3 linked regions of the Homo sapiens genome follow. The protein of the gene in region 1 purifies or fractionates together with the protein of each later gene. This does not show direct contact. Each region holds a gene or a part of one and is shown on either strand. Other genes may lie near its edges. The genes, in order: TXNDC11, CCDC102A and PCNT.

Region 1 (2,784 bases):
CCACTTGACAGGGCCACGATGTGTTTTCAGTTGTTGTGGGGTTTTTTGGTTTTCTGTTTTTGAGACAAGGTCTGACTCTGTTGCCCAGGCTGGAGTGCAGTGGTGCAATTACGGCTCACTGCAGTCTTGAACTCCTGGACTCAAGTGATCCTCCCACCTCAGGCTCCTAAGTAGCTGGATCTACAGGTGTGTGCCACCTTGCCTGGCTAATTTTTTTATCTTACTTTTTATACAGATGAGGCCTTACTATATTGTCCAGGCTGGTCTCAAACTCCTGGCCTCAAGCGATCCTCCCACCTCAGCCTCCCAAAGCACTGGGATTACAGGCACACAGCACCACACCCAGCTTTGTCATTTGAATGGCTGGGCCCCACTTGAAGAAAGCTTATATGTTAAGAAAACTAAGCTTTAAAGGAGGGGATGGTTGAATGTTTACCCCAAAATTATAAAACAATTTACGGCCGGGTCCAGTGGCCCTGGGCAGCCAGGCTCTGGAGTCCCTGCTGTTGACTTCCATTCTGTTAACACCTGAGGGAGACAAACTCGGCTGCCGGCCCACCTCATACCTAAGTGCATAAAGCTGGTAGTTTTGATCAATTGCAGCCAGGCTGTACAGGCACAGGTAAATAGATATGTGAGAGAAACATCATCAGACGATTAAATGACAAGTTCTGAAGAGGAATTTTCTAGATCTCTAGATCAGGACCTGGAACAAAGCTGTAGGGAAAACCCCTTTCTATGTCACCTTCCTTCCTTATTCTGTGCTCTCAGGGCTGGGCAGCCTGAATTCATAGTCCTTTGGTTGGGCTGTTTGCCAGTTATCAGGTTGCCAGGTGTGAGCCAGATGTACCTGGGGAATGGGGGTACAGTCACCCCCAGTTGAGAACCCCTGCCTTAGAGAATGTGTAATAAATGCTTGCTGAAGAAACAGACTGGGTATCTTTCAAGTTCTTCCTTTTTCTCCGGGCACTGTCAGTGGGCACAAGAGGGACATAGGTGGGACACTCCTGCCTCCCCTGGACGCTCTTCCTGACACAGCCGCTGGGCATCTCCGAGCACACAGAGGCCCCATGCCTACACACTCCTGGGGCCCTGCATCACTGGCTTTAGGCCTGGGCCTAGGAGCTCTTGTCTTTCTTGGAGGGTGTGGGTGAAGCTGAGCTCTGGCTTCAGGAACAGATAAGCCATCTTAATTACAGAACGAGCATATGGGACAGCCTCAGCTTTGTAGAGAATTTCTTGCCCAGGCAACATTTTCCTTACTTTCAGTAAGTAAAATCCACGGAACGTCTTTTCTTGGTGAGAAGTAGATGGCCTGGCCTCAGGTACAGCCTGCTTTTGGACTCATTGTGTTGGTGTGACTCCTGTCTTTGCTTCCTTTCCCTCTCTCTCCAGAAAGGACCTAAGTGTGAAATACCCCGAAGACGTCCCCATCACCCTTCCAAACCTGTTGAGGTTCATTTTGCATCACTCAGACCCTGCTTCCAGCCCCCAGAATGTGGCTAACTCTCCTACCAAGGAGTGTCTTCAGAGCGAGGCAGTCTTACAGCGGGGGCACATCTCCCACTTGGAGAGAGAGATCCAGAAACTGAGAGCAGAAATAAGCAGCCTCCAGCGAGCACAAGTGCAGGTGGAGTCCCAGCTCTCCAGTGCCCGCAGAGATGAGCACCGGCTGCGGCAGCAGCAGCGGGCCCTGGAAGAGCAGCACAGCCTGCTCCACGCACACAGTGAGCAGCTGCAGGCCCTCTATGAGCAGAAGACACGTGAGCTGCAGGAGCTGGCCCGCAAGCTGCAGGAGCTGGCCGATGCCTCAGAAAACCTCCTTACCGAGAACACGTGGCTCAAGATCCTGGTGGCGACCATGGAGAGGAAACTGGAGGGCAGGGATGGAGCTGAAAGCCTGGCGGCCCAGAGAGAGGTCCACCCCAAGCAGCCTGAGCCCTCAGCCACCCCCCAGCTCCCTGGCAGCTCCCCTCCACCTGCCAATGTCAGCGCCACACTGGTGTCTGAAAGGAATAAGGAGAACAGGACAGACTAACTTTTTAAATGATATGAAGAAATCAGAGGTGAAAATTGTACATTGGGAATATATTTATGCAAATTTTATTGAAATTTATTGTAAATAAAGATTTTCTCAGTGGTCTAGAAAATCAGCTTGAATGTCATTCAGCATTTATTGAAGAAGGATGACATCCCTTCCACTTATTGCACAAACTTGGTAGCTTTGAGACAAATACAGTAGCACAGTCCGTTTGAAGATTTGTCCAAAAAATTAGTCCATATTTTAGTGGCTCAGTGTCAAGAGTTCCCTCCCTGTGCCCCCACTGTTGCTTCTGCAGTGATACGAAGGATGAATGCTTAATTTCTTATTAGTCAGAAAACTTGAATGCAACAGTTGGGCATTCAAAAATAATCCAGAGAGGTCATAACCTACTTAGCCATTTGAGTGTGGCTCTGGTGTCTGCTAAAAAAAGTAGCTATTGAAAAAACAGTGAGAGCTATGATGTGGTTCACTCATTCTAGAAGCATTTTCATTTTCCTCCCGAAAACCCCCCCAGTGCCTCACCGAGCCCCGGACCTTCACCCAACACGGCTGCCACGCTCAAATGGGCCTGATTCAAACTCCCAGGTACGTCCCTGGCACCAGGGAGTAGGATAAGAAAACCTCCAGAAGTGAAACTGATGAGGAAGTGACATTTAATCACTTCAAAACCGAAACTTCACTGGCAAGGTCAAAACCCCAGGCCAAGGCTGACAATCGAGCGCTGGTCAGTTCCAGGGGTC
Region 2 (4,344 bases), about 46 Mb from region 1:
TGATGAGGTTATAGCTGGAGTTCAGGTGCACCATCAACTCAGTCTCCACCACCTTCCCCAGCCCCATTTCCACCTCCAAAAACTCTGGGCAAGACCTCTGGGCTCTTGATCCAAGGCTGTTACTGGCTGTAGGACCTTGTGCAAGTCTGAGCCAAGAGCCTCTCTGAGCCTTCATTTCCTCAGCTGTAAAATGTGGATGCCCTTGTCCTCTGAGTACTCAAACCCCACATACATCTCCTATCTATCTCTGGCTGGTGAACAGACGCTTTCAACATTCAGCCACGCATAACAAATACAAAGCAAATGAATCGACAAGTGAAACTGCCAGTCTTGCAACGTATGGGATTTCATGAAGTTGGTGGAAGCAAAGCAGGAGAAATGGAACAGCCGCTGCCCACAGAGAAAGGGAACGTCTGCAAGGGAAGTGACCCAGACCCGAAAAAAGGCACTGGACTATCAAAGGATTCAGAGTGATCCTTGAGTTTGAGGAAGCTCTCAAATATTTTTGCAAAAATGAATCTCTTACTGCAAAAACCAGTTCAGAAGGGAAGGATGCTACATACTCAACTATTACAAGAAAAAGCAAGACTTCCAGTGTTAACATCTGATTCATTCTTGGTTCATTTTAAGGCGTGCGTGGTTGCAATCATAATCTAAACTCCGTTAATCACGGGGTAAAACTAATTTATCTTCGTAATATTTAGCTTCTTTTTCTAGGTAAAATCCCAATCAGGCCAGGTTTTCCCCACCATCTTGGTGAATTGTTGGTCTTCTTTTAAATAGATTCACCTCGGGGGCCTTCCAGGGTACAGGATGTAGTGGGGAGTCCTCCAGACGCCTGTCCCGGCTTTCCAGTCAAGACCACAAACATCCTACCCCCAATAGAGAGAAAGCCCCAAAACAGCTGGGCGTCCCCGAAGGCGAAGTACCGTAATTCCCCAGGGCCTGCCAACCACCATCGCAATGCAGAGAAAAGTCTCCGCCCGCCGGGCCGAGTGCTCCCCGCGCCCCCCACCTCTTAACAAGCGCAAGGTTGCTTTCGTCAACCCTTCTGTTGTACAGAAAGAGAAACTGAGGCCCGATGGGCACAGACTTGTTGGCCCACTTCCACTCGGTGGCAGAGCTGGCCCAGGGAAAAATGCAGGTAACAACAGTGAAGACTTGGTAAGCTCGCTCCACGTGCCGAGCTGGGACCCGCGGTGGCCGTTTCTGCTGGGGGCGCCTAGTACGTAGTTGGCGCTGAGGAAACCTGAACCAAGAAAGCCGAGCCCCCCCGCAACTCTCGGCCCCTCACGGGGGTGGGGCCTCCGTTGGGGTACGGCCCGCTCTGCAGCAGAGCCCACCGCCCCGGCCCGCACCCCTCGCCCCGAAGTTAGGCTGGAGCCCCCACCCCAGCAGCTCGGTGGGCCGGGGTCACAGCGGGGCCGCAGCCTGCGACCGCTTCGGGGGCCCCGCCGCTCCCCCTGCTTCCCCTCCCCCCGGGAGGGAGGAGGAGACTCCGCGGCCCTCCCTCGGCCCCTCCGGCGGCGGTCGCAGCTGCACGGTGCCCGCTCTACCCCGCCGCAGCGGCTGGGACGTACGGAGCCCGCAAGTCCCGGCCCGAGGTGAGCGGGGGCGGCAGGCCGGGGGGCGGCAGGCCAAGGCGGCCCGGGAACTTGCTCCAGGCCGCGCGCCTTCCGCGGGAAGGAAGGGGTTAAGTTGTGGGGCGTGCTGGAGGAGCAGACACAGTCGGGGCGCCCGCGGCAACCCCCGAACTCAGAGCAGAACTTTCTAGACGCCTCCCCGGCCTCCCTCAGCCCCCGGAACCCCAGGTCTCCGGTGGGGAGGGGCCGCGGGGTGATGGGGGAGGGGAGGCGCCTCCGGAATGCCGCGGCCCGGGCCGGACGGGAGGGGGCGGCGGGCGGGGACGGAATTTGGGACTCTCCCGGGGGACCCAACGTGGTCGCCATGGCGAATGCGGGATGGACGGGCGGCGCTGGCCAATCAGAGCACGGCGCCCTGCCCAGAGCCGCGGCGACTGCCAATGGGGGCCATGCGGTGGGGTGGGCGGGACCGCGCGGCGCGGGCCGGGAACCCCCTCCACCCTCCGCCCGTCGCTAGGTGGAGCGGGGCGGTTCGCAGGGCCAGCGGCTTGGGAGGGGTCGACTAAGTGAGGACTAAGGCGACGCAGGGCTGGGGCTTCAGTTTCAGTACCTTAGGTGGGGGTGGTGTCCACCTTCCCACCCCCGCTCTCCCAGGGCTCTTGTGGGGGTTGGATTGGTTTGGGTTCGGGAGGTCTGCCCACCTGTTAGAGCGTTCAGGAATCTTTTTAGTGCCTCTCCCCATCCTGTAGGTAAGGAAACTGAGGCCCAGAGAGGGCAGGGACTTGCAGATATCACACAGCATATCAGTGATGGAGCTGGGACTAGCGGGATGTCTGCTGTACAAGAGTGAAGAGTTCACGGTGTTGCCGAGAGGGGTGGGGCTGGGGTCGGGGTGGGGCTGGGTCCCCATGAAGGTTCACCCCACCATTCCAGCTGTGCGTATCCACTTGGCCTGGTGCCTGCAGACCCCATCGTGTAGGTGCTCTCGGGGGCATTGTGCCCCTCAGGTGGCTAAGATCCAGAAGAGGAGGCATCCCATCACCAGCTCCCTACTCTGGCCTTGCTGCTGGTCCGCGGTGTGGACACAGACACGTAGCTGTCCCTCTGGGCCTCAGTTGGTCCATATGTAAAGAAAGGAGTTCAAATCAATGATCCAGGCTGTCTCTGTGGCTCCTCAGTCTAAGATGGGGCTACCTGGGAATAGGCCAGGGGTGCCTACCCCTGGGCTTAGGTCCAGCCTGGAGGCCTAGCCGCCATCCCTTCCTTTCCCGCCAGCCAGCTCCCCCCAGAGGTCCTGCAGCTGGATCCTGGGCAGCAGGTCACAGGGACAGGTGCCCGCAGTCTGTGGGCTGACCAGCCTTGGGCCCTGCACTTATTCAATCAGGCTGTCCTCTGTGGTTTCCCACTGGGCTCTGCTTTCTGTCCACAGCCAGGCCTGTGGCCATGGGCTTGTCCCAGGGCCCTACCTGAAAGGCTCTGGGAGGATCTACAGGGTTTCAGAGCCGGGGAAGGGGTTGGGGCACTGGGCTCCCCATCCCTTCAGCTGGCCCCTGTCCAGGCCTTGGCATTGCTCATTCCTCTCACTGATATGGAGAGACCCATCCAAACATGCTGAGGACAAAACACAACGCTGTTCCCAGTGGGTCAATTAGGCTTCCCCAGGTAAAAGGTGGGACAGCCGACTTGGCCGTGAGATGACCTCTTATTCCAACCCTGGCCAGACAGGCTCAGATACCTACCTGTCTCAGAGCCTGGCCACCGACTGACTCCTGATCTTTAGGATGACTCAACCTTCCCAAACTCTGCATGGTCACAAGGGTACCCCTAAGAGTGGTACCACCTTCTTAGGGGTACCTTCCATCCATCACGCATCTGCTGTATGCTGGGCCCTGTGCTGATGCCCTCGCTCGTGGACTTCAAAGTAAGGCCTTTGCTGTAGAACACGGAGGTGCCTGGTGCTTTGGGAGCATACTCTGTGCAGAGAGGTTAGAGAAGGCTTCCTAGGGGAGGGGACACTGGAGGTGGGTTTTGAAGGATGTGTAGGAGTTTGCTGATGAAGGAAGGAGAGATATTCCAGACAAGTCCACAAGCAACAGGAACCACTGGGTCACTTTCTGTGGGCAGGGCTGATGAGGGCCTAGCCTGCAGCAAGTGTCAGCTCAAAATATTCTTGTTTCTGTCCTGGAGTGAGCTACCAGTGAGCACAGCTGTGGGGCTGGGGTTCAGGAGCCCTGATGGAAGCTCTAAGTGGCACAAGTGTCCCATCTGGATGAGGGAAGCCTGTACTGCCAGAAGAGAGATGGCAGCTTGCCAGGCTTGGCTGTGGGAGGTTGTAGGGCTGTGGTCCCCAGGTGGGGGTGGGGTTGGGGAGATCAAGGCATTTCCTGGAGTTGGTGGCAGCTGAACTTGAAGATGGGTGGGGGTTTTGGAGTCTGGGACATGGGCATTTGGAATACAAACCCAGAGACTTAAAGCAGTAATAGACCTGTCTGGCTGTTGGGAGGCAGGACAACGAAGGGTGGGGTAGGAAAGGCTCCCCGGGGCCTGTGGTGGCCGGTCCCACCGTGACCTGCCCCTTGGTGGGGCAGTATGCCAAGGGAACAGGAGGCCACGCCCCACGCACATAGACACCCCATGGCAAGAGGGCATTGAGCCTGGTGGAAGGGGCGGGCAGGGCAGCTGGGGCATCTCCACGACTGTAAGCCATGCTCTGCGCTGCTGCTGCCCCTCAGTGAGTGTGTGCGTTACCAGGGCTGTGTGT
Region 3 (3,646 bases), on another chromosome or scaffold:
GCCTGGGGCCCGGCCTCTGCACCTGCCCGCCCGACACTCACCTGTGTGGCCTTGGGAGCAGAGGGTGGTGACAGGGCATCATCTAGTCAAGCCCCTGAGTGTTGCCATGGTTGTCAGCTGATAGGACTGAGCAGAAAGGACCCTGGAGACAGGCAGCGCTGGGTGGGGCTGGCACGGAGGCCTCACTCTTGGGCCTGATGTGGGCAAGAGGGGCCTGGGTTGGGCTCTGAGTGCTGGCAGATTCTTGGGAGCTCATGCTAGAGTTCAGGAATGTCTCGTAGGTTTCTACATTTAATTTAGCTTCTTCGGGAGTTTTTATGTAGATGCTCAGGTCATCTGTGGGTAAGTAACGATTTTTTGTTTCTTGCCCGTGTTCTCTCACGTGCTGTGCCGTCAGCTGTGTGGGCAGATGCCATTCCCTGCTCTTAGTTTTGGGGGCAGGAGCTGGTCTCGTACCATCGCATGTGGGGTCAGGCGCCCTTGGTCAGCTTGGGCAAGTGCCCTCTGTTCCTAGTTTTGGATTCCGTCAAGGGGAACGGCCTTGCAGTTCAGCCCACGGCCCTTGTCCCGGCGCCCATGCCCTTTGTGCTCTCTGGGGCTGGGGGCCGGCGCTGTGCACATGCTCGTGAGGGGCATGGGTGGGGCTGGCGCTGTGCAAGCGCTTGTCAGGGGCATGGGCGGGGGGTGCCGGCGCTGTGCGAGCGCTCGTGAGAGGCATGGGGGGGCTGGCGCTGTGCACGTGCTCGTGAGGGGCACGGGCAGGGGGTGCCGGCGCTGTGCGAGCGCTCGTGAGGGGCATGGGGGGGCTGGCGCTGTGCACGTGCTCGTGAGGGGCACAGGGGGGCCGGCACTGTGCGATCGCTCGTGAGGGGCATGGGGGTGGTGGGCCGGTGCTGTCTGAGTGCTCGTGAGGGGCACTGGTCTGTTTTCTGTTGTGCCTTTTTGGTCTTGGTGCTGGGTAGCGCCAGCCCCACGGGGTGCGGGAAGTATTTGGGAAGTAGCCCCTCCGCCCTCCGTTGTCTAGAATTGGGGTTATTTCTTCCTTAAGTTTTGGGAGAATTTTCCAGTAAAGCCACCTGGGCCTGGAGTTCCCTCTGTTGGAGGCAGTTTAGGGTGTGAGTGGGGGTGAGGTGGCATTTTTAGGATGGCCCCAGGGCTATATCACTCCTGGACTCTGTGTCTCCCGGCCAGGTGGGTGGGCCCTGGAAGGAAATGGGCCCAGAGGGCAGAATTGAGCATCCTGGTTCCACCCGCAGTGAAAGCTTCTAGTCCACAGAACCTCCTTTCTTCCCGAAGCACATACACCTCACGCCCCCACGAGTCTGTCTCTAACCTGGTGTCACTTGTGCAGCACGAGGAGCTCATGGGGGCCTGTTACTGTTCTTTTGTCTTTCTCAGTTGAACTGCTGGCTTATAAAGTAGAGCAGGAGAAGTGCATTGCTGGTGACTTGCAGAAGACGCTGAGTGAAGAGCAAGAGAAGGCAAACAGCGTGCAGAAGCTCCTGGCGGCGGAGCAGACTGTAGTGCGAGATTTGAAGTCCGACCTCTGTGAGAGCAGGCAGAAGAGCGAACAGCTGTCCCGGTCCCTCTGCGAGGTGCAGCAGGAGGTCCTCCAGCTGAGGTGCGCCTGATCCCCCTTCCTGGGACACTGGCGGGAGTCCCCCCGTTGTGCCATGTTTTCTTGGTGATGAAGGGAGACAGAACCTCTGGTGGGCCGCAGTTGGGCAGCCCCAGGGGCACCGCGCCCTGCTGTCCCTGGGTTGATAATCCTGTGGTGGGGGGTGAAGCACACGTGTGGGACCTGGCAGGGCTCTGCCTCCCCTCCTGGAGCTCCCAGCCCCCGGGAACACACTCTGGCCCACGTGGTCAGATTGTTCTGCGATGTCTCCACGCAGATCCATGCTGAGCAGTAAGGAGAACGAGCTGAAGGCCGCGCTTCAGGAGCTGGAGAGTGAGCAGGGGAAGGGGCGTGCCCTGCAGAGCCAGCTGGAGGAGGAGCAGCTGCGGCACCTGCAGAGGGAGAGCCAGAGTGCCAAGGCCCTGGAGGTAACAGGGTGTCAGGGCAAGGCAGCCGGCATGGGCTGTGTGCACTGGAAGCCTGAAGCCATGCTCCTCTTTCATCCTTCTTTTCCTGTTCTTCATGGCAGTGCACCCAGTTGACAGCAGTGTGACGTAGCAGGATAGGGCTGTGTTTGCAGGTAAAATTGCACCTTGGTGTAGTGGCAGCCACCACAGGGCGAAGAGTGCGATGACCCGTGGTGGCACGATACCCCTGCTCGGAGCCCCCCCCCGTCCCTGAGCACTTGCTGTGGAGATGGACACAGCCTCCTCGCTGGCATCCAGACAGAGCACAGCCTCAGAGGTCTGTGCACAAGGCAGGCTGGTGGTGGGGCCTCTGCTTTGCATGGCGGAGGCCCAGCAGGCCTGCTGTGGCTTCTGAGCAAGTCTGTGCCAGTTCCATGGGTTATGGCTTTCAACAGCATGGAAGTGGTGGTTCCTAGCAAGCTGGGTGTGTATCTCTGAGCCTCTGGTGGAGTGATTTTCTGAAGAGGGGGCAGGAGCCTCTGGTGGAGTGATTTTCTGAAGAGGGGGCAGGAGCCTCTGGTGGAGTGATTTTCTGGAGAGGGGGCGGGCAGGGGACATCTCTGAATCATTTTCTGGAGAGGGACAGACTGGGAACATCTCTGAACCCAGGACTCAACACCATTTCCGAAAAAAGTATGTCATCTCCGCAGTCTGGGTTTTTTGTTACTTGATGAACTAACAAAAAAATGTTGTCCCTACATGTGGCTAATAGGGTGCATTTCAAAAGGTAGAATTGCTGGGCTAAAGTATATAAACAAATGTGGACAGGAAAACCATGTAGACACTTTTCCTCTTGATTCAGTGTCTCCCATCGTATGTGTTTGCTGTCTAGGAGCTGCGGGCGTCTTTGGAGACACAGCGTGCTCAGAGCAGTCGACTCTGCGTGGCACTGAAACACGAGCAGACGGCCAAGGACAACCTGCAGAAGGAGCTGCGTATCGAGCACTCACGCTGCGAGGCCTTGCTGGCTCAGGAGCGGAGCCAGCTCTCTGAGCTCCAGAAGGACCTTGCGGCTGAGAAGAGCCGCACCCTGGAGCTGTCAGAGGCCTTGCGGCACGAGCGGCTCCTGACCGAGCAGCTGAGCCAGAGGACACAGGAGGCTTGCGTGCACCAGGACACACAGGCCCATCACGCTCTGCTGCAGAAGCTGAAGGAGGAGAAGTCCCGGGTGGTGGACTTGCAAGCGATGCTTGAAAAGGTGCAGCAGCAAGCCCTGCATTCTCAGCAGCAGCTTGAGGCTGAGGCTCAGAAGCACTGTGAGGCGCTCAGGAGAGAGAAGGAGGTAAGTGCCACACTGAAGTCGACGGTGGAAGCCCTGCACACCCAAAAACGAGAGCTGAGATGCTCTCTGGAGAGAGAGAGGGAGAAACCAGCGTGGTTGCAGGCAGAATTAGAGCAGTCACACCCACGGTTGAAAGAGCAAGAAGGACGCAAGGCTGCGAGGAGGAGCGCGGAGGCCAGGCAGAGCCCAGCGGCTGCGGAGCAGTGGAGGAAGTGGCAGAGAGACAAGGAGAAGCTGGTGAGAGCCGCCTGCCGGCGGAGCGTCCACACCTAAAAACGA

The links.
Region 2: the proteins of TXNDC11 (region 1) and CCDC102A purify together in Homo sapiens (affinity purification with mass spectrometry; 2 studies listed by BioGRID and IntAct, with this or other methods). This does not show direct contact.
Region 3: the proteins of TXNDC11 (region 1) and PCNT purify together in Homo sapiens (affinity purification with mass spectrometry; 3 studies listed by BioGRID and IntAct, with this or other methods). This does not show direct contact.

What each region holds. Positions count from the first base shown.
Region 1 is NC_000016.10:11,678,449-11,681,232, reverse strand, and holds the end of TXNDC11 (thioredoxin domain-containing protein 11), read left to right. Parts: intron 1-1,395; coding exon 1,396-2,038; 3' UTR 2,039-2,150; downstream 2,151-2,784. UniProt on the Homo sapiens protein: May act as a redox regulator involved in DUOX proteins folding. The interaction with DUOX1 and DUOX2 suggest that it belongs to a multiprotein complex constituting the thyroid H(2)O(2) generating system.
Region 2 is NC_000016.10:57,533,760-57,538,103, reverse strand, and holds the start of CCDC102A (coiled-coil domain-containing protein 102A), read left to right. Parts: upstream 1-1,532; 5' UTR 1,533-1,604; intron 1,605-4,344.
Region 3 is NC_000021.9:46,428,612-46,432,257, forward strand, and holds part of PCNT (pericentrin), read left to right. Parts: intron 1-1,398; coding exon 1,399-1,621; intron 1,622-1,895; coding exon 1,896-2,046; intron 2,047-2,917; coding exon 2,918-3,604; intron 3,605-3,646. UniProt on the Homo sapiens protein: Integral component of the filamentous matrix of the centrosome involved in the initial establishment of organized microtubule arrays in both mitosis and meiosis. Plays a role, together with DISC1, in the microtubule network formation.